3 separate regions of the Homo sapiens genome follow, and regions 1 and 2 are each linked to region 3. Evidence: fine-mapped expression QTL. A gene starts in region 3. Each other region holds a variant in brackets. All regions are shown on one strand. Distances are from middle to middle. Region 1 overlaps NVL (nuclear VCP like). Region 2 overlaps NVL (nuclear VCP like). Region 3 holds the start of DEGS1 (delta 4-desaturase, sphingolipid 1).

Evidence for each region. PIP is the estimated chance that this variant, and not a neighbour inherited with it, causes the effect. A credible set is the group of variants that fine-mapping cannot tell apart.
Region 1: its variant is the best candidate, but not a certain one, in a credible set for the expression of DEGS1 in whole blood (Lepik 2017, PIP 0.79).
Region 2: its variant is the best candidate, but not a certain one, in a credible set for the expression of DEGS1 in monocytes (Fairfax 2014, PIP 0.70).

The regions. Positions count from the first base shown.
Region 1 is chr1:224,231,857-224,240,146 of GRCh38, forward strand. NVL (nuclear VCP like) reads right to left here. Exons shown (of 23, transcript NM_002533.4): 20 at 4,650-4,726; 21 at 1,345-1,433. Among named protein-coding and RNA genes, the nearest start is that of MIR320B2, 21 kb to the right of the region's middle. The variant C/A (reference allele first, on the strand shown) is at 3,556.
Region 2 is chr1:224,222,448-224,230,737 of GRCh38, forward strand. NVL (nuclear VCP like) reads right to left here. Exons shown (of 23, transcript NM_002533.4): 23 at 4,898-5,223. The coding sequence ends at 5,179. LOC101927164 (a long non-coding RNA gene) reads left to right here. Exons shown (of 3, transcript NR_110668.1): 2 at 967-1,381; 3 at 4,979-5,596. Among named protein-coding and RNA genes, the nearest start is that of MIR320B2, 31 kb to the right of the region's middle. The variant A/G (reference allele first, on the strand shown) is at 5,360.
Region 3 is chr1:224,180,245-224,188,534 of GRCh38, forward strand. It overlaps DEGS1 (delta 4-desaturase, sphingolipid 1), which reads left to right and starts at 2,996. Exons shown (of 3, transcript NM_003676.4): 1 at 2,996-3,174. The coding sequence starts at 3,093. RefSeq lists enhancers at 2,172-2,321, 2,175-3,005, 2,582-2,671, 3,006-3,835, 5,309-5,368 and 1 more and silencers at 2,822-3,021, 3,122-3,501, 3,662-3,741, 5,043-5,337.

The DNA of each region.
Region 1 (8,290 bases), 52 kb after region 3:
TCTACTAAAAATACAAAAAAAATTAAGTGGGTGTGGTGGCACACGCCTGTAGTCCCAGCTACTCGGGAAGCTGAGGCAGGAGAATTGCTTGAACCAGGAGGTGGAGGTTGCAGTGAGCCGAGATCGCGGCACTGCACTCCAGCCTGGGCGACAGAGCAAGACTCAAGTTTAGAAAATAAATAAATAAATAAATAAAAATACAGACAGGGAGGCCGGGCGCAGTGGCTCACACCTGTAATCCCAGCACTTTGGGAGGCCGAGGCAGGCGGATCACGAAGTCAGGAGATCGAGACCATCCTGGCTAACATGGTGAAACCCCGTCTCTACTAAAAATACAAAAAAAAAAATTAGTCAGGTGTGGTGGCCGGCGCCTGTAATCCTAGCTACTTGGGAGGCTGAGGCAGGAGAATGGCATGAACCCGAGAGGCGGAGCTTGCAGTGAGCCAAGATCGCGCCACTGCACTCCAGCCTGAGTGAGAGCGAGACTCTGTCTCAAAAAAAATAAATAAATAAAAATAAAAATAACAAAATAAAAATAGAGACAGGGTTTTGCTCTGTCACTCAGGCTGGAGTGCAGTGGTGCAATCATAGCTCATTGCAGCCTCGAACTCCTGGGCCTCACCCTCCCAAGTAGTTAGGACTATAGGCATGCACCACCATGCCAGTCTAATTTTTAAATTTTTTATAGAGATGGCATCTTGGTTTGTTGCGCAGGCTGCTCTCAAACTCCTGGGCTCAAGCAATCCTCCTGCCGCAGCTTCCCAAAGTGCTGGGATTACAGATGTGAGTCACCACACCCAGCAGACAATTTTTTTCCCCCATATGCACTCAAATAATAACATTAAAGACACTGTCAAATGTGAAGGATGGTGCAAAGCTTTTGAGATGGCCCCAAAGCATCACATAACACAATACACAGATTTTATATTTTGAAAGGAAAGTCTCAACATATGGAAAGTTATTCCAAATTTCACTTCTCTTGTGTATTTTCTAAGCTCTCCAATTTAGGCTGCATTTTAACAGGCAAGTAGATATCACCTTAGCAAAAGAATACGTTTTTCCAGAATTGATAAGCAGCCCAGACTCATGATGAAGACAGCGAATGGATCCATTTGCCTATAGGGACAGTACTCTTTATTAGAGAGGTACTAAATAACTTTGCTATTATTATAATTGTCAGCAACAGAGGTTACCTAATATTTCAGAACAGCTTCTAACAGTCTTATTAGAAAAACGTTAGCTTTAATATCATAGATAATAGACACTAGAAAATGGTCATTTTCCAGGGCAACAGTGGTTTTAAGTATCATAATTAGAATTGAGAGATTCTGGAGAGAATTGTACCTTTTTCATTTCCACTCTTCTGTCTTGCCATTTCCTGTCTCAGGGCACAGATAGAAGCTTCTCGTACCAAAGCAGAGAGATCTGCGCCCCTACAATAAAATAATAGTTATCTACTTATTCTTAGATACTGCAAAATCCCAGAAAAAAACCCGGAAAACAGTTTTCATATAAGTCATATATTAAATAATCAGGAGAAAAAGTGACCAATAAAGATGAGAAATAAATTGATTATCAATCAATAGAAAAGAGCTCTTAGCTTTTATATAAGATATTTCTAGGCCAGGTGCAGTGGCTCACGCCTATAATCCCAGCACTTTGGGAGGCCGAGGTGGGTGGATCACTTGAACAGGAGTTTGAGACTAGTCTCAGCAATATGGAGAAATGCCATATCTACAAAACTACAAAAAAATTAGCTGGGCATGGTGGCATGCACCTGTAGTCCCAGGCACTGGGGAGGCTTAGGTGGGAGGATCACTTGAGCCCGGGAGGTGGCGGTTGCAATGAGCCAAGATCGCACCACTGCACTCCAGCCTGGGTAACAGAGTGAGACTCTGTCCCAATTAAAAAACAAAAACAAAAAAAAACTAAACTCAAGAAGAAAGGAAATTATGGAGGAAACAATACAATGCATAAAGGGCTAAAGTGCTGACTAGCATATTCATGTATTACATAATGTCTAAAGTAAGCTTATTAAAAAGTCATTTATGGGCTGGGCGCAGTGGGTCATGCCTGTAATTCCAGCACTTTGGGAGGCTGAGATGGCAGAATTGCTTGAGCCTGGGGGGCAAAGGCTATAGTGAGCCTGGGTGACAGAGTGAGACCCTGTCTCAAGAAAACCCCCCAAAAAGTCACTTGTGGCTCCAAGTTCAGAAGGGAAAAATACAAACCCTGGAAAGTCTTTAATGCACCTGATTCAAGTTAAAACTGAATGAACACATCATAAGTTACTTAAAATATGACAAATACAAAACAGGCCTTCACTTATTTAATTAGTTCATGTAATAATATGCTGAGTCAGCACAGTTCTGAGTTCAATGAAAGACACTCATGTTGACTGGAGTTTCACTACATTACAGCTGTAACAGGGTTCTTAGAGATTATATGAGAAAGAGTTTGAGTTTGGGGATAAAAACATCACTTCTATGATTCACAAGTCTTGGAAAGAAAAGATGAAAATGAAAAATAAATTTTTTTAAAAAACCTCATCTCTGGACATTAAACTTATTATATAATGTTGATAATCCCCATACTATATAACTTTTTTTTTTTTGAGATGGAGTCTTGCTCTGTCACCGAGGCTGGAGTGCAGTGGTGTGATCTTGGCTCACCGCAACCTCTGCGTCCTGGGTATGAGTGATTCTCCTGCCTCAGACACATACTATATAAAAGTAAAGACCCACAGAGCTTAAATTTTTAACTGAATCTGGTGTTTTGTTGGCTAAATGTTAGGGTTATAACATTATTTAATAATCACATACCTGCTGGGGTATTCATTCCTTCCCATACTATGAAATCTAACATTGGTGGAAACACCATTAACTAACACAAGCAGATAGCTATAGACTGTAGTGGTGTAGTGTCTCTCAAACTGTAATTATAGTGGCATGAAAATCCAAAATGTACACCATTCAACTTTAGCCCTAACCCCTTCACAGACTGATAGCCTACTTGGTATATCCAAAAGATTTAGCCCAGGGCAAGTTCCGCCACCAAAATCACCTGTTACTCACCGAAAATCTTTTCAGATTTGAGCACTTAAAGCTGTATTATTATTATTTTTTTTGTAGAGATGGGGTCTTACTATGTTGCCCAAGCTGGTCTTGAACTCCTGGCCTCAAACAATCTGCCTGCCTTGGCCTCCCAAAGGGCTAGGATTACAGGTGTGAGCCACTGCTCCCACCCTTAAAGCAGTAAACTACTCAAGTAGTAGTCTCCTAAGCATAAGGCCATTTCTTTATTTTTAATTTTATTTATTTTTATTTTTTGAGATGGAGTGTCGCTCTGTTGCCCAGCCTGGAGTGCAGTGACACGATCTCAGCTCACTGCAACCTCCACCCGCTGGGTTCAAGCAATTTTCCTGTCTCAGCCTCCCTAGTAGCTGCGATTACAGGTGTGCACTACCATGCCCGGCTAATTTTTGTAGTTTTAGTAGAGACAAGGTTTCACCATGTTGGCCAGGTTGGTCTCAAATTTCTGACCTCAAGTGATCTG[C/A]CCACCTCAGCCTCCAAAGTGCTGGGATTACAGGCGTGAGCCACTGTGCCTGGCCACATCATTTAAATAAAGACTCGTATGGATTTGATTCCTAATTAGGGGGTGAGGCACATCCTATTTAAGGGGAGGTAGAGGCATTTACATCTGCCCCTCACCACCCCTGCCTGAGACTCTGATCAGTTTCTCTTCACTGAGAATCACTGCTACATTGGAAGGACATAATAGAGAAAAAAAAAGGGCCGGGTGTGGTGGCTCACTGTAATCCCAGCACTTTGGGATGCTGAGGCATGAGGGACTACTTAAGCTCAGGAGTTCATGACAAGACTGGGCAATATGGCGAGACCCTAAAACTACAAAAATTTTTTAAAAAAATTAGCTGGGGATGGTAGCATGCACCTGTAGTCCCAGCTATCCAGGAGGCTGAGGTCAGAGGATTGCTTGAGCCCAGGAAGTCAAGGCTACAGTGAGCCATGATCATGCCACTGTACTCCAGCCTGGGTGAAAGAGGGAAACCCTGTATGGAAAAAAAAAAAAGAAAAAAAAGAAAACAAAAAGCCGGAGGGGGCATTGTCTCTGTTAGTTAAACTTGAGTTTCATTTCCTCCCTCTGTGTCCCCAAATTGGGAAAGTTAACAAACAAATTTACTTCAAAACATATGAAGAAAAACTAATAACTGTAACAACACAAACATAGGAAGGATGAAGGCAGAAATGTCAGATTTCCTGATGTTACTACAGGCTATGTGGAGGTGAAAATGCATCCTGAGGGCTGCAAAATGTGGCACTTGTAGATTAGTCTCTTTTAAATGCTGACGCACCAGTACAATTTGTAAAGGACAGCAGTGCTGGTTAGGGTAGGTTAAGTACCAAGAGTCAACATATGAAAGGACTCCCCTGTTCCCAGGAATTCCTTCAGGGCCTCCAAATGTGCAGTCTCTTCTCTAAGAAGGGAGATGCCAGACACTTTATGTGCTTCATGGGATACCTCATTTAATCCTCCCAACAATCTGCTGAGGTGAGCATCATCACCCCTCATTTTATAGATGAGGAAATTGAACCCCAGAGAGTGAATTGACTTAAGATTTAAACACTTACGTATAGCAATCACAGCGAAGGTCACCAGCAATTGCTTCCAAATTTACATCTGCATCCAGTGGTGGTTTGGTACCATTCTAAGTAAGAGAGAAAAATGATTTTTCATTGGAGCTTTAAAGACCATGCCGGGTGCGATGGCTCATGCTTGTAATCCCAGCACTTTGGGAGGCCAAGGTGGGCAGATCACCTGAGGTCAGGAGTTCGAGACCAACCTGTGGAACATGGTAAAACCCCATCTCTACTACAAATACAAAAATTAGCTGGGCGTTATGGTATGCACCTGTAGTCCCAGCTACTCGGGAGGCTGAGGCACGAGAATTGCTCAAGCCCTGGAGGTGGAGGTTGTAGTGAGCAGAGATCATGCCACTGCACTCCAGCCTGGGCGACAGAGTGAGACTGAGTCTCAAAGATAAAGACCATATTCATCTACATAATAGGTTCTTAATAATGGCTGTTTGACTAAATGAGTATAACTGACTTCCAGACTGGTGCTGTTAAGGTTTATACAAATTTCAATGTTGAGAAATGAGGCTAAGAAGCAGATTCCAAACTTGAGAAAGCTAAAGGCAAACAATTTATGCTCATGAAGTTTGAGGAATTTGTGTACAGCTGCAGCAAATACTAAACACCATCAACAAGAATGAAAACTAGCACCTCGATCTTTCCAAAGGTGAAGAAACACATTTCCTTTCCAGCTTAAACATGGCAAATACTTAAGCAATGCTTAGTGTTGGTGTGAGGCTGGCTAGGACGGAAGAAATAATACTGAACCTGGCCAGGAGAGAAGGAGCAGTATCTGCTCTAAAATAAAAGCACAAAGCACTCTAAGCTCAGTATATTCTTTCTTAATCATTTAGCTAACACTCAATCTTGATTTTGGTGCCAATTCCCCTTCAGCTCATTTCAAGACACATTAGCAATGACAAGTATGTAACTTAGAACTCTTAGAATTTCTCATGAGACTGGATGTAGAGGAAAAAAAACCAACCCAGAATTTTAACACTTAACCCAGTAACTTGCATGCATACATTATGTTTAATAATATTTTTAGTGACAAACTGCAGAGGCAAACAAAACAAGCTTTTTCTTCCCTCCAGGGTATTGCTCTGTCGCCCAGGCAGGAGTGAGTGGAACAACCACAACAGACTTGACCTCCTCGGCACAAGAGATCCTTCTACCTCAGCCTCCCGAGGAGCTGGAACTACATGCCACCATGCCTGGCTACTTTTTTTTTTTTTTGAGACAGTCTCGCTCTGGAGTGCAGTGGTGCGATCTTGGCTCACTGCAACCTCTGTCTCCTAGGAGCGATGGGGTGGCGTGTGCCTGTAATCCCAGCTACTCGGGACACTGAGGCAGGAGAATCACTGGAACCCGGGAGGTGGAGGCTGTAGTAAGCCATGATCGCACCATTGCACTCCAGCCTGGGTGACAGTTGGAGAGTTGGAGACTTGGTTTCAAAAAAAAAAAAAAAAAAAAAAAAGAAGAAACACACACAAAAGTGAATAAACACAAGCCATTAAGCTTTTCTCTTTTCTTTTTTTTTCTTTGAGACAGGGTCTGGCTCTGTCATCCAGGCTTAGTGCAATGGCGCAATCTCAGCTTACTGCAACCTCCACCTCCCGGGCTCAAGCCATCCTCCCACCTCAGCCTCTTGGGTAGCTGGGACTATAGGCACCCACCACACACCTGGCTAATTTTTGTATTTTTTGTAGAGATGGGGTTTCACGATGTTGCCCAGGCTGATCTCAAACTCCTCAGCTCAAGCGATCTGCCCGCCTTGGCCACCCGAAGTGCTGAGATTACAGGTGAGGGCCACAGCACCTGCCCAGTAAGCTTTTCTTAGTGTAAAACGTCAGCCTGGCAAAGTGCTCCAGGCACAGGGTTCGGCGACCTGGCTGAGAGGACTGGAGCTGCCGGCCTTGTGCACTAGTTACCTGTTGCTCTGCCCACACTCACATACCAGCGTCTCACTGCCTCCCAGCAGGGCATGTTCAAGAACTGCATAAATTATACATCTGTTAGTTGCTATCACTAAATAAAATGGACATGTTATCTACCACAGGTTCAAGAAACAGTTAATTTCCCATTCAATCCATTTTGACCTGGGACACAAACTATGATCTTAGGCAAACAATCTTGTGCTTTTTTCTCTAAGTAATAAAACTAAAGGGTCAGAATGTAGGATTGCTAAGCATCTTTTAGTGTAAACAATTTTCAACCGAGTCAGGATAGTGGTCAATCCTGGGGGCAGGTAGAAGTGGGTAGTGGCTGGAAGTAGAAGGGCAGCTTTTGTCGGTGTGGGAATGTTCTATTTTATTGTGGCAAAACATACAAAAAACTGACCATTTCAACCATTTTTCTGTGTACAGGTCAGTGGCATTAAGTCCATCCACATTGTTGTATCACCCCTATCCGGCTCCAGAACTCTTTTATCTTCCCAAAGAAAACAATGCATCCATTAAACACTAACTCCCCATTCTTCCTGCCCCCGCCTCCCAACCTCTGGCAGTCACCATTGTACTTCATAGTTCTATGAATTAGACTTGGAGTGTTCTCTTTCTTGATCTGGAGACTTTGTAACAATTCATGGAGCTGGACATTTACCACTTTTTAATTTCTTTCTTGAATCTCTAAATCTACTTTACATTTACCACTTTTCTGTAGGTGTATCATACTTCAATAAAAAGACCTAAACAGTGCAAGTAACACTGGGCGAGGAATTAGAAAACCTGAGTTCTAAAGTTCAAATTTGCAACTGAATGGCCCTTATAGAACTTTGTTAATCTTTATTATTTAATTTTTTAAAGTATCTTAATAGATAAGTATCTTATTTCCAGATGAGTATATATAATTTTGTGCTATATTTGAGAGGGGAGGGGGGCATCAGTGAACATATAATAGTGATTTCTTAAAATGAAGACTAGCGTAGACTTTCTTGCTATGGTGGTGGGGCTGCCACATTATGTAGGAGCCCTTGTTAGGTGCTTTCTATGATTTTAAGAACCTATCAACTTACCTCGACTGTCACACTGTCACATTAACTGTACGGATCTTCCCTAAGGACACTCCGCGTGCTGTTAGACAATCTAATCTCAAACTATCCAGTGCCCTGTTTTAATCAAAAGCTGAATCATAAGAAGACAATTCTTTTATACTTCTCAATATCTAAATTCTACCCTTGGGTTAAGCTGGACCTCCACAAGGTCCTGTGCATCCTCAGAGTGCATTTCTTGGACCTTCATCAAATTGTATTTAATGAACTGGCTTTGTGTAATACCCTCAGTTTATATTAAGAAAATGACAAGCCTCAGTCCCAAGAGGCTTATTGTGTTTGTGTCAGAAATACCGTTAAAGACATTGTGCATCGCATCTTAGTGTTCTCTTTGTGAGGACCCAGAGGAGGAATTTTTCTTTTTTCTGTCTCGCTGTGTCACCAGGCTGGAGTGCAGTGACGCAATCTCGGCTCACTGCAACTTACGCCTCCCAGGTTCAAGCGATTCTCCTGCCTCAGCCCCGAGTAGCTGGGATTACAGGCATGCGCTACCACGCTGGGTAATTTTTTTTTTTTTTTTTTTTTTGAGACGGAGTCTCACTGTCACAGGCCCAGGCTGGAGTGCAGTGGTGCGATCTCAGCTCACTGC
Region 2 (8,290 bases), 42 kb after region 3:
CCTGGTGAGCAAACATTAAAAATTCTCACCTGGAGGAGCTGTGCCCCAGCAGTCTAATTTGGACAAACATGTTGTTGAAGAACAGTTCATTCACTTCACTTTATTCAATGCTTCCTGCATGCCAGAATCCGGGCTGGGTGCTACAGAGACACTGACTGACAGAATCCTTGCCCTTGGCCAGGCACAGGTGCTCACGCCTGTAATCCCAGCACTTTGAGAGGCTGAGGTGGGTGGATCACTTAAGTCCAGGAGTTCAAGATCTGCCTGGTCAACATGGTGAAACCTCGTCTCTACTAAAAATACAAAAATCAGCCGGGTGTGGTGGCACGCGGCTGCAATCCTAGCTACTCGGGAGGCTGAGGCAGGAGAATCCCTTGAACCTGGGAGGCAGAGGTTGCAGTGTGCCGAGATCATGCCACTACACTCCAGCCTGGGCAACAGAGGGAGACTCCGTCACCAAAAAAAAAGAAAGAAAAAGAAAAACAAATGCTGATAATAGTGATAAGCGTAAGTCTCATAATCCAAAGCAAAAGTGATAAGGTTAGAGTCTGAATCATGAGCAATACCATCTCACCCAAATCTATTTGGCTTCTCAGCTTTGGAAGGTGAGTAGTGCAATTTCAAATAGTGAGGGATTTGTCCAAAAAATGTATCCAAATCTGTTCAGTTCCTGAGTTCAAACAGTGAGATCTAGAATAGTGACAGATACAAAGTATAGAATACTATACTTTTACCTAAGTTATATCTACTTATACTTTTTAGGGTAATAAGGCATTTTACAACATTTTTACCTTTTGGAAATAAGATCTTCCAGTAAATACTACTTGGACATGTTTTCAGCAATAACCTACATACAAACATGAGAGACCACCTGCTTCTTCCCACTGACACCAGCCCCTCCCTTATCCAGGCCTTTGTTCTCTGCTCAGGTCATTTACCTCCTTCCTTCATCTTCTTTGCCTTCAGGATTCCGCTGACACATTGCATTCTTGGGAGAACCTTCCAATTCCAATTATGGACTAGCTGCTCCTACCCTGTGCTCTTCGCTTGGTGACTATTCTTATCCCTTTTCAGCCCTTCTCACACTGTTTTGTGACTGTCTCTTTATCTGTATTAAGTTGGATATGAATTTGGCTCCTTTCACACAGACCAAAATATAAATAGCTTAAGCAATATAAAGATCACACACACAAGTGAGGCAAATGACCATCTGAGGGTTGAGGAAACTCTGCTGCAAGGGTTGCCCACGATCCTGGTTTCTTGTGTTTTATTACTTTGTCATTCCCTAGGATGTTGTCTCCATTTACAAGGCCAAAACAGGTTCATCATCAGCTCATCACTCTCTAGTCCCGGGAAGGGCAGCATGGAGTTAAAATGACAGGTAGCACCTTCTTTTTTAAACAAGTTATGACTTTTCAAGGACATAGCCAGGGTCTTTGCTTCTGGGAGAAGGTGTGTTGAGTTCAATGTAGGCTGCCCTGAGTTAATGATGGGTTAATGCAACCCAAGTCACTTCCTTATAAGGATGTAACCAGAAGCTGTTCCCATCGCTTCTGTTTATATTATACTAGCCAGATGTTTGTTAGTCACTTTCCTGGCAGCAAGAGCCCTTCTTACTAAAAGGTAGAAGAAAAGAATGGACATTATAGGGCGATAAGCTCTCTGCCACACACACCACACTGGGCATTAAGTTCTGAGTTTGTTCACCATTATGTTAGTAATGCTCAGTACAAAGTGTTTAATGAAATGGCTAAATCTTTGACAGTGCTAGAACAGAGGACATAATTCCGGGAGTTTCTGAACAGAGGACTGGATCTTTTTCACAAGAGAAAGAAAAGTTAGACCGCTGTAGACCAGAATTCAGACTGTTCCGCGAGTCCCCTTGAACAGGCTCTGAACCTTGTTCTTTTTGATGATATGGGGATAACTCTATTTGATCCCTAGTATGAGTTGGGAGCGTTAAGATAACATTTGGCAGTGTGTAGTACACAGATCATGCTGAAAAATATGATCTTCCCTTCCATTTGCAGAAGTGCTGGCAACATCCACTGTCACACTACCTGTCGCAGTATCTGCCTGCTGTTCAACATGTACCATACCTGACTGGCAAAGCCAACGAACACGCAGCCAGTCTGCTCTCTTATGCGTTCTACATTTTATGTCGAGGTTAAGCTAAACTACCAGCAAGTTGGATACTTAGACCTAACATTTAATAGTCAAGAAGATTTTTGCTTTTTCTCATAACCCACATCTATGATATACCTGACTGTGTTTCTCAGGATTGGGTGGATGTCAAGCAGAGTTGAATCTGCTCCTCAAATTTAAGACCTTCTGGTGCATATTCCAATTTTCCCTTCATTCTTTTTTTTTTTTTTTTGAGACAGAGTCTCACTCTGTCACCAGGTTGGAGTGCAGTGGCACGATCTCGGCTCACTGCAACCTCTGCCTCCTGAGTTCAAGCAATTCTCTTGCCTCAGCCTCCCGAGTAGCTGGGACTACAGGCCATGCCACCACACCCAGCTAATTTTTGTATTTTTAGTAGAGACGGGGTTTCACCATATTGATCAGGATGGTCTTGATCTCTTGACCTCGTGATCCGCCCGCCTTGGCTTCCCAAAATGTTGGAATTACAGGCGTGAGCCACCGCACCCGGCTTCCCTTCATTCTTAATCACCTACCTTTAGTATGTGATCCTGATTTGCCTTTTTTTTTCTTTTTTGGTGTTCCCTCTTCTGGTGTCCTAAGGTACCCTCTTCTTCATGCCCTTTCACTGGGCATGGTCATACTCTGCTGAGATGTCTGAATCCTTCTGCGAACTCCTCAGAAAAACGACTGTGTTGGCTGGGCACAGTGACTCACGCCTGTAATCCCAGCACTTTGGGAGGCCAAGGTGGAAGGATAACAAGGTCAGGAGATCGAGACCATCCTGGCTAACACGGTGAAACCCCGTCTCTACTAAAAATACAAAAAATTAGCCGGGCGTGGTGGCAGGCACCTGTAGTCCCAGCTACTTGGGAGGCTGAGGCAGGAGAATGGCAGGAACCCGGGAGGTGGAGGTTGCAGTGAGCCGAGATTGCACCACTGCACTCCAGCCTGGGCAACACAGCAAGACTCCGTCTCAAAAAAAGAAAAAAAAAAAGACTGTTTTATTGACCTTTGTAACCCTGATTTGCTTTTAGTAACATTTTTTCACCACATTCTTTTTGTAAATTTTTTTTTTTTTTGAGACAGAGTCTCACTCTGTTGCCTAGGCTGGAGTGCAGTGGTGCGATCTTGGCTCACTGCAACCTCCGCCTCCGGGTTCATGCGATTCTCCTGCCTCAGCTTCCTGAGTAGCTGGGATTACAGGTGCCTGCCACCACGCCCGGCTAATTTTCATATTTTTAGTAGAGACGGGGTTTCACCATGTTGGCCAGGTTGGTCAAGAACTCCCGACCTCAGGCGATCTGCCCGCCTTGGCCTAGTGCTGGGATTACAGGCATAAGCCACCACGCCTGGCCTTGTAACATTTTTTTTTCTTTTTGTAGAGATGTGGGGGGTCTCACTATGTTGCCCAGGCTGCTCTCGAACTCCTGAACTCAAGTGATCCTCCCACTTAGGCCTCCCAAACATGCTAGGATTACAGGCATGTGCCACTGTGACTGGTCCACATTCTTAAAAGTAGCCTAAAAATTTTTGTAGAATGAGGTGAAGTAAAAATTTAAGAAGAAAGAAAAGTAGGTAACCCGACCCATCTATATATAACTTCCGGATATATTGTGAGCAACACTGTAAATTATGAGTTGAACACAACAAAAATCAAGCCCTTCACAAAGTATTGCCTAGGGACTCATCAAACATATAGAGGCCAAAGGAGAGTCAAATCTGGGACAGTTTGAATATCATAATGATAATAATGGATAATATATTAAAAATAGTAATACTTGACTTTGATGAGGAATGGACTTTATAGAGTTTCAAAGTAACTTCCCATAAAATACACATACATTACAAAGTGAAAAAAAAAGAGTAAAGAGTAACTTTGTAGTGTGAGAAACCTGGAAGAACTACCTCAAGTGATCACAGTGAACATCATGAGTAACAGGACAAACTGAAATCGCATGCCACATGACAAGCGCACAGTGTCACTTTGTAATCTGCCAAAGATGCATAACTTGAGTCTAATCACAAGGAAAACATCAGACACATCCACACTCAAGGAATTTTACAAAGTAACTGGCCTGAAACCTTCACAAGTGTCAAAAGTCAAACCTGAAGAAATGTTCCACGCTTAAAAGAGATTAAAGAATGTAGCAACTAACTGCAGTGGCCTCCTTTTAAAGCAGTGGTCCCCAACCTTTTAGGCTCAGGCACTGGTTTCGTGGAAGATAATTTTTCCACAGACAGGGTCAGGGGAGGTGGTTTCAGGAAGAAACTGTTCCACCTCAGATCATCAGGCATCAGATTCTCATAAGGAGGGTACAACCTAGGTCCCTCAAGTGCACAGTTCACAACAGGGTTCACGCTTCTATGAAAGTCTAATGCTGCCACTGATCTAACAGGAGGTGGAGCTAAGGCAGTAATGCTCGCTCGCCCACCACTAACCTCCCACTGTGCGTCCTGGTTCCTAACAGGAGACAGATAGGTACCTGTCTCCAACCTGGGGGTTAGGGACCTGTTTTAAAGGACATTATCAGGACAACTAGAGGAACGTGAATGGAGGAGGATTAGATGGCAGTGATGTATCAATGTATTAATTCCCTGACTTTGATGGTGGGTTATGTAGGAGAATATCTTCAAGTGTAGAAAATACACATGACAGTATTTGGGAGTGATAGGGCATCAGGTTGGCACTTATTCCTAGATGGTTGTGGAAGGCGGGGGAGGAGATCTCTGTAACTTTTCTGTATAGTCAAAATAGTTCAAAGTAAAAGTTTTATTTGAAAAATGTAACAGTCATTTTATTTCAGCAGTTTAAAAATTGTCCTTTTTCTTAAAGAGGAAGAAGGCATTTTCACACAAGGCTGGCCAGATGGGAAGAATCTTCAGCTTCAGCTTCAGCTTGGCCTCATTCATTTGAAAATAAAATGTTTACATGAGGCCGCGCCTGTGTCCAGCTGAAAGTGGGTCCTTCAGAGCGTGTGGGGGATTCTCTGCCGGCTTGATGGGCTAGCTCCTCTAAGCCGGCTGCTGGAGACATCACCGGCTGAGGGACTCCTGCAAACGTTCATACATGATTTGATCCTGAAAGGAGGGAGAACACAGAATACAGAGACCGTCACTGCTTGTTTTGGGCTGAATGGTGCCCCCCAAAATTCACATGCTGCAGTCCGCACCCGCAGGACCTCAGAATGTGATTGTAACTGGAGAGAGGGTCTTT[A/G]TAGAGGAGACTGGATTAAAATGAGGTCATACAGGTAGACTCTTATCCAATATGACTGCTCTCCTTACAAAAAGAGGGGATTAGGGCACAGGAGGGAAGAGCATGTGCGCAGAGGGAAAAGCACATGCAGGCGCTGGGAGAAGACAGCCATCAGTGAGGACAAAGGCTCCAGAAGAACCAATCCTGCCCAACACTCTCCAGAACTGTGAGAAAATAAATTTTCCACTTTTTAAGCCACCCAGTCTGTGGTACTTTGTCATAGTAGCTCCTGCTGACTAACTTACTGTTGAAGAGAGGTGATATTTTACCTTCCTGCATCTAAATCCTAATCTAAATCCTACACATGCTCCTTTCCACAGGGGACTCCATGACATTCACAATCGTTGACTCAAGTTTTCCTAAAAAATCAGGTCAAGAGTCTTATGTCTATCTAATTAGTGAAGAAAGCACAATTCTAAACTACACTGAATCCAGATGGAAAGGAGGCAAAGGCAGAAGCTTCTTTTTTTGTTTTTTGAAACGGAGTCTCACTCTGTCGCCCAGGCTGGAATGCAGCGGTGCAATCTCGGCTCACTGCAATCTCTGCCTCCTGGGTTCAAGGGATTCCCCTGCCTCGGCCTCCTGAGTAGCTGGAACTACAGGTGCGCACCACTACGCCCGGCAAATTTTTTGCATTTTAGTAGAGATGGGGTTTCACCATGTTGGCCAGGATGGTCTCAAACTCCTGACCTCATGATCCACCCGCCTCGGCCTCTCAAAGTGCTGGGATTACAGGTGTGAGCCACTGCGCCAGGCCGGGAAAGTAGAAGCTTCTTACACTACATTAACATTCATAAGAAACTGCCAGAATGGGCCGGGCGCGGTGGCTCACACCTGTAATCCCAGCACTTTGGGAGGCTGAGATGGGTGGATCACGAGGTCAGGAGATCGAGACCATCCTGGCTAACATGGTGAAACCCTGTCTCTACAAAAATACAAAAAAATTAGCTGGGCATGGTGGCGGGCGCCTGTAGTCCCAGCTACTCGGGAGGCTGAGGCAGGAGAATGGTGTGAACCTGGGAGGCGGAGCTTGCAGTGAGCCGAGATCGCGCCATTGCGACAGAGCGAGACTCCGTCTCAAAAAAAAAAAAAAAAAAAAAAGAAATTGCCAGAATGTTTTCCAGTGTGGTTGTATCTACATTTTCAGCAACAATGTATAAGAGTTCCAGGCCAGGCGTGGTGGCTCAGGCCTGTAACCCAGCACTTTGGGAGGCTGAGGCGGGCCAATCACCTGAGGTTGGGAGTTGGAGACCAGGCTGACCAACATGGAGAAACCCTGTCTCTACTAAAAATACAAAAAATTAGCCGGGTGTGGTGGCACATGCCTGTAATCCCAGCTACTCGGGAGGCTGAAGCAGGAGAATAGCTTGAACTCAGGAGGCAGAGGTTGTGGTGAGCTGCGATTGTGCCATTGCATTCCAGCCTGGGCAACAAGAGTGAAACTCTGTCTCAAAAAAATAAATAAATAAATAAATAAATAAAAAGAGTTCCAGCTGTTTCATATCCTTGCCACCATTTAGTGTTGCCAATATTTTAAATTTTAGTCATTGTGGTAGGTGTGTAGTAGAATCTCACTGTGGTCAAATTAAAAAAAAATTTTTTTTTTTGAGACGGAGTCTCAATCTGTCGCCCAGGCTGGAGTGCAGTGGTGCAATCTTGGCTCACTGCAACCTCTGCCTCCCAGGTTCAAGCGATTCTTCTGCTTCAGCCTCCTGAGTAGCTGGGACTACAGGTGCGCAGTAGCTGGGACTACAGGTGCGCGCCCAGCTAATTTTTGTATTTTTAGTAGAGATGAGATTTCACTATATTGGCCAGGCTGGTCTTGAACTCCTGACTTCGTGATCTGCCCGCCTCAGCCTCCCAAAGTGCTGGGATTACAGAAGTGAGCCACCGCGTCTGGCAAATTAACATTTTAAATGTTGGGTGGCAATTCCACTCCTGTGTATTCATCCCAAAGAAATACTTGAAGTGTGTTTTTTCTTCTGTGTTTATTTGTTTGTTTTTGAGACAAGGTTTCGTTCTGTAACCGAGGCTGGAGTACAATGGTGTGATCATGGCTCAGTGTAGCCTCAACCTCCTGGGCTCAAGTAATCCTTCTGCCTCGGTCTCCTAAGTAGCTGGGACTACAGGTGCATGACACCATGCCTGGCTAAGTTTTAATTTTTTTGTAGAGACAGGGTCTCACCATGTTGCCCAGGCTGATCTTGAACTCCTGGGCTCAAGCCATTCTCCCACCTCTGCCTCCTGAGTAGCTGAGATAACAGGCATAAGCCCCTGTGCCCAGCTCCAGAGTGATTTTTTTTTAACCCTTCTCCCACCTATGGTGAAGATGTTTTTATTTCCCTGAAATGTATGGGTAAGTCCCTATGGCTTAGTTTGGGTACAGTCTAGCTCCAAGAAATACAAAGCCATTTATCAAAAAGCGTAGAGTAGGTCAAATAATACTTGAATCAGATGATTAAAATTCTGAGATTGTGGGCTGGGCGCAGTGGCTCACGCCTGTAATCCCAGCACTTTGGGAGGCCAAGGCGGGTGGATCACGAGGTCAAGAGTTTGAGACCAGCCTCACCAATATGGTGAAACCCTGTCTCTACTAAAAATACAAAAAATTAGCCAGGCATGGTGGTGCGCACCTATAGTCCCAGCTACTCAGGAGGCTGAGACAGAAGAATCGCTTGAACCCAGGAGGCAGAGGTTGCAGTGAGCCAAGATCATGCCACTACACTCCAGACTGGGTGACAGAGCGAGACTCTGTCTCAAAAAAATAAAAAAAAAATCTGAGATTGTGGAGGCAGAAGAGGTCATTCTCTTTCTGAATAAAGTTGTTAGAGAATCTAGTTAGGAAAACTGTGTTCTAGTCCCTAAGAAACATATAAAATTAAAATCTCTCAA
Region 3 (8,290 bases):
CTCCAGCCTGGGCAACAGAGCGCAACTCCATCTCAGAAAAAAAAAATGGTATATCCAGATTCACATTTTTTTTCAAACTCTGCATTTTTCTTTCTTTCTTTTATTTTTTAATGTTTTTGAGACAAAGCCTCACTCTGTCACACAGGCTAGAGTGCAGTGCCACAATCTCAGCTCATTTCTCAGCTCATTGAAGCCTCGACCTCCTGGGCTCAAGCAATCTTCCCACCTCAGCCTCAGCAATAGGTGGGACCACAAACATGGGCCACCACGCCCAGTTAAATTTTTTTTTTTTTTTTTTGAGACGGAGTCTTGCTCTGTCGCCCAGTCTGGAGTGCAGTGGTGCGATCTCGGCTCACTGCAAGCTCCGCCTCCCGGTTTCATGCCATTCTCCTTCCTCAGCCCCCCAAGTAGCTGGGGCTACAGGCGCCCCCCCCACCATGCCTGGCTAATTTTTTTTGTATTTTTAGTAGAGATGGGGTTTCACCGTGTTAGCCAGGATGGTCTGGATCTCCTGACCTTGGAGACCGCCTTGGCCTCCCAAAGTGCTGGGATTACAGGCATGAGCCACCATACCCGGCATAATTTTTGTATTTTTTATAGAGGTGGGTTTTTGCCATGTTGCCCAGGCTTGTCCCGAACCCCTGCCCTCAAGCGATCCCCCTACCTCGGCCTCCCAAAGTGCTCAGACTACAGACGTAAGCCTCCGCACACCTTTTGGACTGGTGTGCCAGTTCACACATGCCTGTGATAGCAACTGCGTTCTGAACTGCAGGGATACATTTACTTGTCAGCACCTGAAAACTTCCTCCTGAGTTGAGTCCAATTATCAGCTTCATGTGCCATCTGCCAATCCAGATGAAACTTGGCAAATACAAAGCTGTCCTTTTCCAGGTGACACTCCCCACCTTCTTTTTCCTCCACCATTTCATTAACAACTAAAAAGCTCCTGCATGATCAGACCTGTGTATCTATCCATCATCAAATCCCACTCCTTTTTCGAGACTGGGACCCTCTGGAGGCTGACCCAGCCACGCATTTGCTAGCATGCCCTGCAGACATGACCCTCGCTGGGCTCTGATCAGCCTTCAGGCCTCCACTCCAGGTGTCACTGTTCTGTCTCCCCTCTGCTCTCACAGCCTTCTCTGCTAGATGTCTCAGCCGTGCTGGCCCTCTCTATTTCAGAAGTGAATGTACTGAGAGGGTCTTAGGGACTTATTAATAATGCTCCTGGGGTCGGATGTAGTAGCTCATGCCTGTGATCCCAATACTTTGAGATCACTTGAGCCCAAGCGTTTGAGACCAGCCTGGGCAACAAGGTGAGGCCCCATCTCTATCAAAAATTCAAAAAAGTAGCCAAGCATGGTGGTGCACGCCTGTGATCCCAGCTCCTCGGGAGACTGGGGTGGGAGGATGGCTTAAGCTCAGGTCAAGACTGAAGTGAGACATGAGGCCACCACTGCACTCCAGCCTGGGCAACAGAGCAGGACTCTGTCTCAAAAAAAACAAAACCCACTATAACCATAATACTATTATCACACTTAAGAAATTCATAATTCCTTAATATCATCACATATCCAATTGATATCTGAGTTCAATTATTTCATGTCAATGTTTTTAAACTATTTCAATCAGAATCTAAATGAGGTCAACACGTTGCAATTGGTTGGTATGTCTTTTAAACTCCTTTTAATCTACAGGTTTCTCTTTTTTTGCCTTGAGTTTCATTTATTAGAGAACCCAGACATTGTCCCATATAGTCTCCCAGAGTTGGATCTTGCTAGTTTCATCCCCACGGCCTAGTTTAACACATTCCTCTGTCCTTTCTATTTTCTTTTTTTTTTCTTGAGAGGGAGTCTCCGTCTGTCCCCCAGGCTGGAGTGCAGTGGCTCCGTCTCAGCTCACTGCAACCTCTGCCTCCCAGTTCGAGCGATTCCCCTGCCTCAGCCTCCTGAGTAGCTGGGATTACAGGCGCCTGCCACTACGCCCAGCTAATTTTTTTATATTTTTAGTAGAGACGGGGGTTTCACCATCCTGATCAGGCTGGTCTCGAACTCCCGACCTCAGGTGATGGACCCGCCTCTGCCTCACAGAGTGCAAGGATTACAGACGTGAGCCACCGCACCCGGCCAAATGTCCTTTCTATTTTCTATAAATTAACAGTCAGATCTAGGGGCTCGATCAGATTTGTGTGTGTGTGTGTGCCGTGTGCGCGTGCACAGCATGTTCTTTGACTAGGAGGCACACCTGCTTTGGTTATCTTCTTTTTGTAATCTTTAAGTTGCTCTTTGATGTAGACGTGGTAACTAATGTTGAAACAAAATTAGTTTCGTTTCAAAACCTTTCTTTCAGGAAGAGGTTGTGGTTGATTACTTCTGCGACAGGTAGATGCAAGGTTGAGCAATCATCTCTTAACAGAAGTGGTCACACTAGAATAATTCAAGCACAACAACAAATCCCACATCATCACCCCCTCTTAATAATGGTGTTTTCTTTTTACTTGATTAGCTTTTAATTGTCACGCACTCTGCATTTTTTCCCTGAGGTATTATTTCCAGAAGGCAGCGAAATATGACTCAATGGCTAATTTGCTTTTTAAAAATTAAACAAAACTTAGGCCAGCTGCCATTTAAGAAGGGCTCCGGGGCCTCCAGACTCGGTGTGACCGTAGCCGTGCCCGGTGCTCCCCTCGCGGAGGCGTTAGGGCGGCAGGTTTATCTCACTTGAGACCATTCCTTCCTTTTTCATCTTCTCCGGGCTCCGGCGCAGCAGGCCGCAGGGGCGGGCACTCGCAAGAACGCGGCATCCTGGATGGTGGCCGAGTCACCGAAGCTCAGAACCCCGCGTCCCAGAATCGCTGAGAGCCGGCCCCGCACGGGGGCCTGGGAGCGCCACGCGCCCTCCACCCAGAGAGGCAGGCGGGCGGGCCGGGGGGGGCGGGGCCTCGGGACTCCGCCCACGCCTCCGTCTCCTCCGCGCTCCGCCACAGCCGGCCGACACCACACCAGCCGGGGAGCCGCCGCCGCCGCCGCCACCTCTGAGCAGCCGGCTGGGAGCGAGAGCCGACAGCTAGTCTGCAAGCCACCGCTGTCGCCATGGGGAGCCGCGTCTCGCGGGAAGACTTCGAGTGGGTCTACACCGACCAGCCGCACGCCGACCGGCGCCGGGAGATCCTGGGTGAGGGCCAGCGGGCGCCCCGTTATGTGCGTGCGTGGCCTCCCGGCGCCGGGGCGCGCTCTCCCCTCGCGGGCCCTGCGCGGTCGTGGGCGCCGGAGGCCCGTTAGCAGCCTGCTCCCCGTCGCGTCCCGTCGCCGCTCGGGCCGCCAGCCCGCGGGTCAGCGCGGGAGAGGCTGGGCGAGGAGCGGGGGGAGGGACGGGTCCTCGGAGCCGCGCAGCTCCGACCCTTCCGCGAAGAGGCGCAGGCGCGTCCCCGAGCGCGGGAGTCCCCGCCAGGCCCACGCCGGCCGGTTGGGGCGAAGGGTGTCCCCGGCTGTGCCAGCCTTGAGTAGATCTTTTCGCTAGAAGATTCCTGTGCCCTCAGGTGGGCGCCCTTTCCTCTCACCACTCCCTCTCCTCCGGAGCGGGCCGAGGTGAGCGGGTGCCGGCCTTGGGGCTGCCTGAGTGCTAGGCAGGGTGTGGTCCTGGGCATCCTTGGGCCTACCAGCGAGCCCTGCTCAGGGTGTCGGGCGCCGGCGGGCAGTACTGGCGGGGGCGGCCGCAGTCCCGGCCTTGGGCCCGTTAAGGGGGCCGGCGTCCCTCCATATGCCCCCCGGGGCTTCTCGGACTTGATGGGCCCTGGTCGGTTCACGCCGCTTGTCCCATTGATCCTCACGACAAGCCTGGGACGTAAGAACGGCGGATTCGTAGGCATTTTTCATCCATCTCGGTTTTGTGGATGAAAAGACTGAAAATGGAAGACTTGCCAAATAAGGAAAATATGTGGCGTGGCCTGCTGGTCCCCTGACAGCTAATTGAGAGGCCTTAACTCTCCAGAGGATTCGGGCCTTCTGTGTTACATAGAGAATGCTCATCTCTCCCAGGCTACTCCTAATATGCTAGGGATTGTGTGGAATGCTTTACAAACATTACCCAATTTCATCCTCTTGGTAATTCTACTTGGTTGGTATTATCGCTGTTTTAAAAAATGAAATAAGAACGCGTGACTAAATGCTAGGGGGATTCTAATGCGCATTCGGTTGCCTCTTCCAGAGCACGTGTTTGTTTTTTGTTTGTTTGTTTTTTGAGACTGCACGTGTTTGTTTTTTGTTTGTTTGTTTGTTTGTTTTTTGAGACTGAGTCTCACTCTGTTGCTCATGCTGGAGTGCAGTGGCGCGATCTCCACTCGCTGCAACCTCTGCCTCCTGGGTTCAAGCGATTCTTCTGTCTCAGCCTCCCGAGTAGCTGGGATTACAGGTTCCCACCACTACGCCTGGCTAATGTTTGTATCTTTTTTAGTTAGAGACGGGGTTTCACCATGTTGGCCAGGCTTATCTCGAACTCCTGACCTCAGGTGATCCGCCCGCCTTGGCCTCCCGAAGTTTTGGGATTACAGGCGTGAACCACCGTGCCCGGCCAGAGCACGAGCTTTTTAACCTCTGTTGAGGAAACGGGGACCGGTCACGGTAGCTCAGGCCTGTAATCCTAGCACTTCGGGAGGCTGAGGCGGGAGGATCGCTTCAGCCCAGAAGTTTGAGACCATCCTGAGTAACATAGTGAGAGCCCCCCGTTTACACACACACACACACACACACACACACACACACACTTTTTTTAAATTGAGGAAACGGTGAGTTGAACATGAGCAATTATTCCTTATATATAGTATTTCCTTAGTTTTTCTTCTCAACATTCATTTGCCCAGTGAAAAGAAAAAGCAAGTAGCTGGGACCACAAGCGCACACCACCATGCCTGGTTGATTTTTCTATTTTTTGTAGAGATGGGTTTCTCCGTGTTGCCCAGGCTGGTCTTGAACTCCTGGGCTCAAGCAATCTGTCCGCTTTGGCCTCCCAAAGTGCTGGGATTTTAAAGGCGTAAGCCACTGCACCCGGTAACTTTGGGTTCTTGAATTCCCTTCCTCCTCTTCTTCCTCCTCCCCTACACTCCATTAGAGAAAGGGTCTTGCTTTGTTGCCCAAGCTGGAGTGCGGTGGTTGTTCACAGGCATGATGATCACTGCAGCCTGGGCTCCAGTGGTCCGCATACCTCAGCCTGCCAGTAGCAATTTGTTTGGCACATCACTTACACATACTTGATATGAGATAGCATGATACTTTTTTGAGACGGAGCCGCACTCTGTCACCCAGGCTGGAGTGCAGTGGCCCAGTCTCGGCTCACTGCAACCTCTCCCTCCTGGGTTCAAGCAGTTCTGCCTGCCCCAGTCTCCCGAGTACCTGGGATTACAGACGCCCGCCACCATACCTGGCTAAGTTTTTCTATTTTTATTTTTAGTAGAGACAGGGTTTTGCCACATTGGCCAGGCTGGTCTCAGATGATGCGCCTGCCATGGCCTCCCAAAGTCCTGGGATTACAGGCGTGAGCCACCCTGCCAGGCCACATATGATATATTTTATCAATGCCTTATCTACATGTTACATAGGAATAATCTAGCGTCCTACCTGTGTAAAAACCAACTCTGGAATACTGAAACTGAGCTACTTAATATTCTGAAAATCAGGACGGGTGTGGTGGCTTTTTTTTGCCTGTAATCCGAGCACTTTGAGAAGCTGAGGCAAGAAGATCGCTTGAGGCCAGTTCAGAACAGCCCCATCTGCACGAGAAATTAAAAAATTAGCTAGGCGTGCATGCCTGTCCCGCTACTCAGAAGGCTGAGGCGAGAGGAACACTTGAACTCAGGAGTTCGAGGCCAACCTGGGCAACATGGCAAAACCCCATCTCTACCAAAAAAAAAAAAATTTAATTAGCGGGACATGGTGGCATGTGCCTGTGGTCCCAGCTACACAGAAGGCTGAGGTGGGAGGATTGCTTGAGCTGGGGAGGTAGAGGCTGCAGTGAGCCGTGATTGCCCCACCGCGTTCCAGCCTGGGCAACAGAGTGAGACTGTCTCAAGAAAAAGAGATGAAGGAAGTGAGAAGGTGCTGATTGATACTTACCTCACACTGAGCCTTTTTTCCCCCCACAGACTTATCACTGAACCATTTCACTGGGAAAGTAAAAGGACCACATATTTCTTGGCCGGGCATGGTGGCTCACGCCTGTAATCCCAGCACTTTAGGAGGCTAAGGTGGGCGGATCATGAGGTCAGGAGATCGAGACCATCCTGGCTAACACGGTGAAACCCCATCTCTACTAAAAATACAAAAAATTAGCCGGGCGTGGCGGCAGCCACCTGTAGTCCCAACTACTCAGGAGGCCGAGGCAGGAGAATGGCGTGAACCCGGGAGGCAGAGCTTGCAGTGAGCTGAGATGGTGCCACTGCACTCCAGCCTGGGCGACAGAGTGAGCCTCCGTCTCAAAAAAAAAAAAAAAAAAAAAAGAAGGACTACATATTTCTCAATGAAAATACAGTGTACAATGTTTTCCATGCAGGTGTAAATACTAACTCATGTTCTGTTTCAGGGTGGGAGATGGAATAACCTGTAGAAAGAATCTTTAGATTTGTTTAAATTATACACAAATGATAAGAGATCTTTCTGAAAGTATTGACTTTTTGGCGGGGGAGGGAAGGGGCCTGATAGAACAACCAACAATTGTACACTTTAAGTTTACATTTAGAGTTCACATTAAAAGTTCATTTACAAGGCATCTGTTTGAAATTCGTGAGGATGAGCTGGGCTGGGTGGCTCATGGCTGTAATCCCAGCCCTTGGGTGGCTGAGGTGGACAGGTCACCTGAGGTCAGGAGTTCAAGACCAGTCTGGCCAACATGGTGAAACCCCGTCTCTACTAAAAATACAAAAATTAGCTGGGTGTGGTGGTGGGCGCCTGTAATCCCAGCTACTGGGAAGGCTGAGGCAGGAGAATTGCTTGAACCCAGGAGGCAGAGGGTGCAGTGAGCTGAGATCTCACCATTGCACTCCAGCCTGGGCAACAGAGCGAGACTCCGTCTCAAAAAAAAAAAAGAATAAATCACAAGAAATGGTTCCTTCACTGTTATACTTTAACATGATACAGCTTTTTAATGTTTTATTTTTTGAGAGAGAGTCTCACTGTGTTGCCCAGGCTGGAGTGCAGTGGTGTGATCATAAATTCTTGGGCTCAAGTGATGCTCCCGCTTCAGCATCCTAAGTAGCTGGGACTACAGGCTTGTGCCACCTCACCTGGCTAATTTTTTTTATTTTTGGTAGAAATAGAATCTGTTTGCCCAGGCTGGTCTTGAACACTGGGCCTCAGGCAGTCTTTGTGCCTCAGCCTCCCAAAGTGCTGGATTAATGGTGTGAGCCACAGCACCTGGCCAATAGCTTTATTGAGATTATAATTCAACTATCATGATTTATTCATTTAAAGTGTACAGTTCAGTATTTTTTAGTATATTCACAGAGTTGTGCAGCTGTCACCACCATATAACCTTAGAACATTTCATCATCACCAAAAGAAACCCTATACTCATTAGCAGTCCCTCATATCCCCTGCTTCTACCTAGGTAACCACTAATCTACTTTGTGGCCTATAGATTTGCTTATTCTGGACATTTCATATACATGAAATCATAAAATACCTGATCTTTTATGATTGGCTTTTACTTAGCATAATATAAATTTTTTTTTTTTTTTAATTTGTAGAGACAGGGTCCTGTTATGTTGCCCAGGCTGATCTTGAATTCCTGGGCTCAAGTGATCCTCCTGCCTTGGCCTCTCAGAGTGCTGGCATTATAGGTGTGAGCCACTGCACCCAGCCATTAGCATAATATTTTAGCTGGGCACAGTGGCATGCTCCTGTAGTCCCAGCTACTAGGGTGACTGAGGCAGGAGGATCACTTGAGTCCAGGAGTTTGAGGCTGTAGTGAGCTATGATGGCATCACTGTACTTCAGCCTGAGTGACAGAGGTAGACCCTGTCTCTAAATATTTTAAGGTTCATTAAAATAATATATTTTCAATAAAATAATATTTCAATAAAATAATATTTTAAGGTTCATTCATGTTATAGCATATGTCAGTGTATGATTCCTTTTTCTGGCTGAATAATATTCCTTTGTATGGATATACCAGGTGTTTAACATTTTGAGGAACTGCTGTACAGTTTTCCAAAGCAGCTGCACCATTTTATATTCCCACTAGCAAAGTATGAGGGTTCTAATTTCTCCACATCCTTGTTTTTACCTACCTTTTTTTATTA